Homo sapiens: one gene and its partner. The protein of the gene in region 1 purifies or fractionates together with the protein of each later gene. This does not show direct contact. Each region holds a gene or a part of one and is shown on either strand. Other genes may lie near its edges.

Region 1 (3,820 bases):
GAGTGATGTGGTTTGTGGCTGGATTGATGGACAAAGAGCTAATTCCTGAACAGCCTTAGTTCTATGGTTAAGAAGTTTTTATTTTATTCTGTGAGTAACGGGGAGCCAGTAGATGATATAAAACGAGGCAATAAGGTGATTGTATTAACATTTAAGATGATAGCTCTAAGAGCAATGTGAAGGCACATTAGAAACAGAAGAGCCAGGAGTGTGGGAAGCCAAGTCCAGATTCCACCTTGGCCAATTTCCACCCAGGCCCTTCATGCTGCACAGCTCTACAGGGCACTGATCACGTGGTAATTTATGTGTATGTTGGCCCCTCGAGCTGTACAACTGCTCACTCCACAAAAAGAATTTTCTTCTCCCATACCTTGTTATACATTTCTATAATTGCACTTAAAATACTTGTTTTGTAGTTTTTCAAATTTACATGTCTTCATTTAATAGGTTTTGATCTGCTTAAAAGCAGAGAATAAGTTTCTCATCTCTCTCTTTCCAGCATTTAGTACTGGGCCTGGACCATAGCAGGTGCTCCATAAAGATTTCTTGAATGAGTAAATGAATGAGTAGAATTCCATAGCACTCTAGAAGAGTTGTATGATCATGAATTGGATGTCCTTGACTTCAGAAACTCAGCCATTTATTATTTATGTGAATTTCAACAGATTACAGTCATACAATGCTTAACAATGGGGATCTGTTCTGAGAACTGCATTTTTAGGTAATTTTGTCATTGTGCAAACATCATGGAGTCTACTTACACAAATCTAGATGGTATAACTGACTGCACACCTAGGCTATAGGGTATAGCTTATTGCTCTTAGGTCACAAGCCTGTACAGCATATTACTCTACTGAATAGTGTAGGCGATTGTAATACCATGGTAAGTATTTGCGTATCTAATCATATCAAATAGCAAAAATTTGGTATTATAATTTAATGAGACCACTGTCGTATATGAGGTCCATCATATGTGGTGCATGACTGTATTTAATCTCATTGAAATTGCTTCCTCAACTGTAAAATAGAAATAATAAAACCTAATACGTGGAATTGTCATGTTGACTAGAAATAATGTATGTAGTGTGCTTATATAAGTTCCTAGCCCTGGTAACACTTAAAAAACAATATCGTTTGCCCACTTTTTCATGGGATTGTTTGTTTTTTTCTTATAAATTTGTTTAAGCTCCTTGTAGATTCTGGATATTAGACCTTTGTCAGATGGATAGATTACAAAAATCTTCTCCCATTCTGTGGGTTGCCTGTTCACTCTGATGATAGTTTATTTTTCTGTGCAGAAGCTCTTTAATTAGATCCCATTTGTCAATTTTTGCTTTTGTTGAAATTGTTTTTGACGTTTTCATCATGAAATCTTTGCCCATGCCTATGTCCTGAATGATATTGCCTGTATTTTCTTCTAGAGCTTTTATAGTTTGGGGTTTTATACTTAAGTTTTTAATTTATCTTGAGTTAATTTTTGTATATGGTGTAACAAAGAGGTCCAGTTTCAGTTTTCCGCATATGGCTAGCCAGTTCTCCAAGCACCATTTATTAAATAGGGAATCCTTTCCCCATAGCTTGTTTTTGTCAGGCTTGATGAATATCAGATGGTTGTAAATGTACAGTCTTTTCTGAGTTCTCTATTCTGTTCCATTGGTCTGTGTGTGTGCTTTTGTACTAATACCACGCTGTTTTGGTTACTGTAGCCTTGTAGAATAGTTTGAAGTCAGATAGTGTGATACCTTCAGCTTTGCTCTTTTTGTTGAGGATTGTCTTGGCCATACGGGCTCTTTTTCGTTCTATATAAATTTTAAAGTAGATTTTTCTAATTCTGTGAACAATGTGAATGGTAATTTGATGGGAATAGCATTAGATCTATAAATTACTTTGGATGTATAGCCATTTTTGTGATATTGATTCTTCCTATCCATGAGCATAGAATGTTTTTCCATTTGTTTGTGTCCTCTCTGATTTCCTTGAGCAATGGTTTTTAGTTCTCCTTGAAGAGGTGCTTTACTTCTCTTCTTAGCTGTATTCCCAGGTTTTTTATTCTCTTTGTAGCAATTGTGAATGGGAGTTCATTCATGATTTGGCTCTTTGCTTTTCTGTTGTAGGTGTATAGGAATACTTGTGATTTTTGCATACTGATTTTGCACCCTGAGACTTTGCTGAAGTTGCTTATCAGCTTAAGAAGTTTTTGGGGTGAGACGATAGGGTTTTCTAGATACAGGATCAGGTCATCTGCAAACAGAGACAGTTTGACTTATGTAGCAAACCTGCACATCCTGCACACGTATCCCAGAACTTATAAAATAAAATAAAAATAAATAAAATTAAATTATAGGTTTATTATTAGTTGTAGCAAATGCTGTCAGTGCTGTCCATTTCCCTTGAACCCTACAATTAGGTGTAGTCTGGTCAGCTTCCAACTTTCAGTGCCTGCATTTCTGTGCCAGCAGTTTCTTCCTAGAACTTCAGGAGAGTGCCCTGCCTTCAGCATTCTAGAAGTGCTGGAACATTAATAGACAATGACTGACAGGATCCAGTGTACACACACCCAGCTCTATCACCTCCAAGAGGGATAACTCTGAAGTGTGTGTTCTACGTTAGTCTTAGTCTTCAGGTTCTCTGCAGGATTGAGCTACCACAGAGATAGCTGGTTTAGTAGTACACCCTTTAGTGGTTGCCTTTTCATCTCTGTTACTTCCTTGCTCCCCAAATGGTGGTCTTTGCACCTCCCAAATAAAACATTTCCTTCTTAAATCTTTGTTGGAACATCTACTTTTGGGAGATGGGGAATTTTCTTAAAATATAATTATTATGAAAGCAGATGAAATTTTCACATTTTGAAGAATTTTGAAAAAGCTTTTAGAAAAGTCATTATTTCTGTGGCAGAAGCCTAATGAGATTTTTCTTCACTTTTCTTGATTACAATTGTAACAGGGATTATAACCCATATTTTGCTGTCCCGTGGGTAAGTCACAGATCCCATATCTGGAGACCTGATTACTGGAGAATTTCATGGTCTTGTTGTAATAGTCTTGACCTTTAAGAATGGCCCTCATTGAGGGAAGGCGGATGGCATGTTTCTATTGTTCTACGGAGAATTCCATAGCCATCTTATATCTTCTTTGGGAAGGCATTATATAGTAAAATCAAGCAGAATTTCATTCATGTAACCCCTTCTTCTTTGTTTTTCCTCTCTTTCCTTATGCCTTCTTGCCTCCTAACAATCCTCCAGGTGTGGTTTCAGAACCGAAGAGCCAAGTTCCGCAGGAATGAGAGAGCCATGCTAGCCAATAAAAACGCTTCCCTCCTCAAATCCTACTCAGGAGACGTGACTGCTGTGGAGCAGCCCATCGTACCTCGTCCTGCTCCGAGACCCACCGATTATCTCTCCTGGGGGACAGCGTCTCCGTACAGGTGAATGACTGGCCCACTCTCCCTTGCTCCACTTCCACATGTTTCTCAGCGGTCGGTCATGTTTCAAGCTGCTTGTGCAGCTCACCGACATTTCTTACTGGGTTAATCTCTTCAGAGACATTCAACTTGCTGACATCCCCACATTTTCCCAGGAGATTATAAGCTGCCCCAGCAGCAGGGTTTGGGGCAGAAGTGAGAGGGGCAGGCTATCTCACCAATCTCCTCTTGGACTCAGGAACTCTTGCAAAGGTTTCAAAGATGAGGAAGAATCTAAAAGAAAAGATCATTAAGCTGTGCCCAGTGTTCCTCTTGCAACAATTCTGGAACAAAACTTTACCCTGTTTCCAAATTTAAGCTAAATTCGTTGTATTATGCAAATGTAGGGACGTAACTTGTA
Region 2 (3,820 bases), on another chromosome or scaffold:
TTTTCCTTTTTCTTTTCTTTTCTTTTTTTTTTTTTTTCGGAAGCGGAGTTTCGCTCTCGTTGCCCAGGCTGGAGTGCAGTGGCGCGATCTCGGCTCACTGCAACCTCCGCCTCCCGGGTTCAAGCGATTCTCCTGCTTCAGACTCCTGAGTAGCTGGGATTACAGGAGCGCTCCACCACGCCCGGCTAAGGGCACTTTTACTTTCCTCTGCATCTGGCCTAGTCACTGGGTGTTGAGCTCGTAGGGGCAGGGACAAGAAGCCTTTTCCTCCTATGTCTTTCTCCCTCCACTTCCCCCTCCAGTTTGGCATCGTCCTCGTGCCTTGCCGGTGGTAGCAATGCTGCTTACATTTGAGTGTCTTCCGTGCCCCCTCCATGGCTCTTGAGCGCTTTGGATGTACAGTATTTTTCTTATTTAATCTTTGTGACAAGTCTGTAATTCTATTCTATAGAGCGGAACAAGTCTAGAGAAGTTGGAGAGTTCTGTACTCTTGCTTGCCTAGCACATGAACCTGGCCAGTGTGACTCAACCCCTAAGCCGAGGTTGTGAAACCACCGCGCCTGGGCGTCCCCGGGAGAGCTGGCATGTGCGGACTCTGCTTGCTGGGCCCTACCTCCCAGGCTGATTCTGCAGGTCTGGGGAGTTGCCCCACAATTTGCATTTCGATTAGCTCCCCAGGTGGTGTTGATGGTGGCTGCTTCCCGGACAGCCCTTTGAGAACCATTCACAATGGTGCAAAATGAAGGGAGAGAAATTTATTGGAGATATTTGCTTTTTCTTACTTTAAAATTAGATCTTGGCCGGGTGCGGTGGCTCACACCTGTAATCCCAGCACTTTGGGAGGCCGAGGGAGGTGGAACACCTGAAGTCAGGAGTTGGAGACCAGCCTGCCGACATGGCGAAACCCCGTCTGTACTAAAAATACAAAAATTAGCCGGGTGTGGTGGCGTGCGTACGTAGTTTCAGCTACTTGGGGAGGCTGAGGCAGGGGGATCTCTTGAACCCAGGAGGTGGAGGTTGCAGTGAGATGAGATCTCACCACTGCACTCCAGCCTGGGCGACAGAGCGAGACTGTGTCTCAAAAAAAATAAAAATAAAATAGATGTTAAAGAATGAAAAATAATTCGGACGACTGACGGTAGATTGCTCAGAAAACTGGCTGAGAGTTGAGAATTCCTGTTAGCCATGATTAGAAAAGTTAAAAGTTTCATAAGTCTCCAGTTTAAAAAGGGGCCATGGATTTAAGTGTGGAATAAAATGGGAAATCTTTGGAAGTTTGGCTTTTTTCCCACTCTGATTTATTTATTAATTTAGTCGCAGCACGGGCATTTGTTACATTATCCTCTTCAGATGCCCAAAGTCTGCCACACCACCACACAGAAGGTTTGAGTGATAGGACCACAGCTTGTAGTTTTGGCCCTTGGAGGTAGGGGGGTTGGGGAGCATTGTGTGCTGAGTCTCCTCTGCCACATGCCCCTCCAGCGATTCAGCTTACTCAAATATGACTACAGAGACTGACATTAAAATGTAGGCTTTGGGGGTTCTTTTTGCGGGACGGGGTTGGGGGCAATTCTTGCTGAGAAAGATTTTTAGGTTTTTTCTTTCTTTTTTTTTTTTTTTTTTTTTTTTTTTGATGGAGTTTCACTCTGTCGCCCAGGCTGGAGTGCAATGGCACAATCAGCTCACTGCAACTTACGCCCCCCCAGGGTCAAGTGATTCTCCTGCCTCAGCCTCCGGAGTAGCTGGGATCATAGGCATGCGCCACCATGCCTGGCTAACTTTGTATTTTTAGTAGAGACGGGGTTTCTGCATGTTGGTCAGGCTGGTCTCGAACTCCTGACCTCAGGTGATCCGCCTGCCTTGGCCTCCTTAAGTGCTGGGATTACAGGCGTGAGCCACTGCACCTGGACCCTTTTTTTTTTTTTTTTTTTTTTTTTTTTTGAGACACAGTCTTGCTCTATCGCCCAGGCGGGAGTGTAGGTGCGTGGTCTCGGCTCACTGCTACCTCTGCCTCCTGGGTTGAAGTGATTCTCCTGACTGAGCCTCCTGAGTAGCTGGGATTACAAGCACGCACCACCACGCCTGGCTAATTTTTTGTATTTTTAGTAGACACGGGGTTTCATCATGCTGGCCAGGCTTGTCTCCAACTCCTGACCTTGTGATCTGCCCGCCTAGGCCTCCCAAAGTGTTGGGCTTACAGGCGCCCTGTGATTTTTAGGTTTTTAAAATTATAATGGATTTCTTTCCGGGGAAAATAACCGCAGATAGGTGGGAGGAATGGTTTTAGTTTACAGTTGATGACCCCCCTCCTTTCCCCACCTACACCCTTAGGCGAGTTGTACACACTCCTCAGGGGATCCCAACTTCCATGGCCACTGTCCTATGTTCTGGCATTTTCGATGACCCATAGGTGGACAGGTTGTTATCATCTAAAGGAGCTGAACACTGAACAATTACTAAACACTTAACCTTTTCTGTTATTACTGGTTACCAGCTATTTGCATTGCATTTCACCTAATTCATTTCTACTGTTGTTTCATTCTTTGTTGATGACATGAATGTTTTATATAAACATGAGTTTTTGCAATATGCTTCATAACTGGGGTGGTATAATTAACACGAAATTGTTTTACCACTGGCTTAAATAGATGGATGTCAAATCATTTTTATGTCAGTCTAAGGGAAAGTATTTATTTATTTTTTTGAGATGGAGTCTCGCTCTGTGGCCCAGGCTGGAGTGCAGTGGTGCCATCTCAGCTCTCTGCAACCTCCGATTCCCGGGCTCAAGCGATTCTTGTGCCTTAGCCTCACGAGTAGCTGGGATTACAGGCATGTGCCACCATGCCCAGCTAATTTTTTTGTATTTTTCATAGAGATGGGGTTTCACCATGTTAGCCAGGCTGGTGGTCTCCAACTCCTGACCTCAAGTGATCCACCCACCTCGGCCTCCCCAAGTGCTGAGATTACAGGCGTGAGCCACTGCGCCTGGTTCGTTTATTGAGTGAAGGTTATTCATTGTTAATAACTGAAAGAAAGTAGAAAATACACCTAATCAGTTGCTTATTCTAATTGTAGAGTTGAGATACTTGGGAATCAGTAGGCTTAAGCTGGCAGCATAGCTCTATGAAGACTCATACTCGGTTAACTAAAGTGTATTGGGGCTACCTACCTGGGGGAGCAAAACGCCTTAGTGTCTTAGAAGATGTGTGTTTTTTTATTGCATTTTATTTTATTATTATTTATTTTTGAGACAGAGTCTCGCTTTTGTCACCCAGGCTGGAGTGCAGTGGCGTGATCTTGGCTCACTGCAACCTTCGCCTCCTGGGTTCAAGCGATTCTCCTGCCTCAGTCTCCTAAGTAGCTGGGACTATAGGCACCCGCCACCATGCCCGGCTAATTTTGTATTTTTAGTAGAGACGGGGTTTCACCGTGTTGGCCAGGTTGGTCTCAAACTCCTGACCTCAGGTGATCTGCCCGCCTTGGCCTCCGAAAGTGCTGGGCCACCGCACCCAGCCAAGGATGTGTGTATCCTGTAAAAATTGTGTGGGTACGTCATCGGAAGAGGTGAAGGTATTGTCTTGATAATTCTTCATTCTCCATTCTTGCCCTGTCGTCCTTTACTGTTGTCCTTTTGTTCTGGAACTCTCCCTGCTGTCTTCCTGTTTGTTTTCTCCTCTGTAAAATTCTTGTTTTGGTATTCCATGCCTGTTTCTGGCAGTACTCATTTGCTTTTTACCACTTTGGCCTACTGAGAAAGTAAGAGAAAGTTCAGTATAGCCAGGAACTGTCAGAGTTGTTGGAGGATTGACTCATTCTCCTT

What was found.
Region 2: the proteins of PRRX1 (region 1) and GTF2I purify together in Homo sapiens (co-purification; one study listed by BioGRID). This does not show direct contact.

The regions. Positions count from the first base shown.
Region 1 is NC_000001.11:170,722,979-170,726,798, forward strand, and holds part of PRRX1 (paired mesoderm homeobox protein 1), read left to right. Parts: intron 1-3,241; coding exon 3,242-3,423; intron 3,424-3,820. UniProt on the Homo sapiens protein: Master transcription factor of stromal fibroblasts for myofibroblastic lineage progression. Orchestrates the functional drift of fibroblasts into myofibroblastic phenotype via TGF-beta signaling by remodeling a super-enhancer landscape.
Region 2 is NC_000007.14:74,660,600-74,664,419, forward strand, and holds part of GTF2I (general transcription factor II-I), read left to right. Parts: intron 1-3,820. UniProt on the Homo sapiens protein: Interacts with the basal transcription machinery by coordinating the formation of a multiprotein complex at the C-FOS promoter, and linking specific signal responsive activator complexes.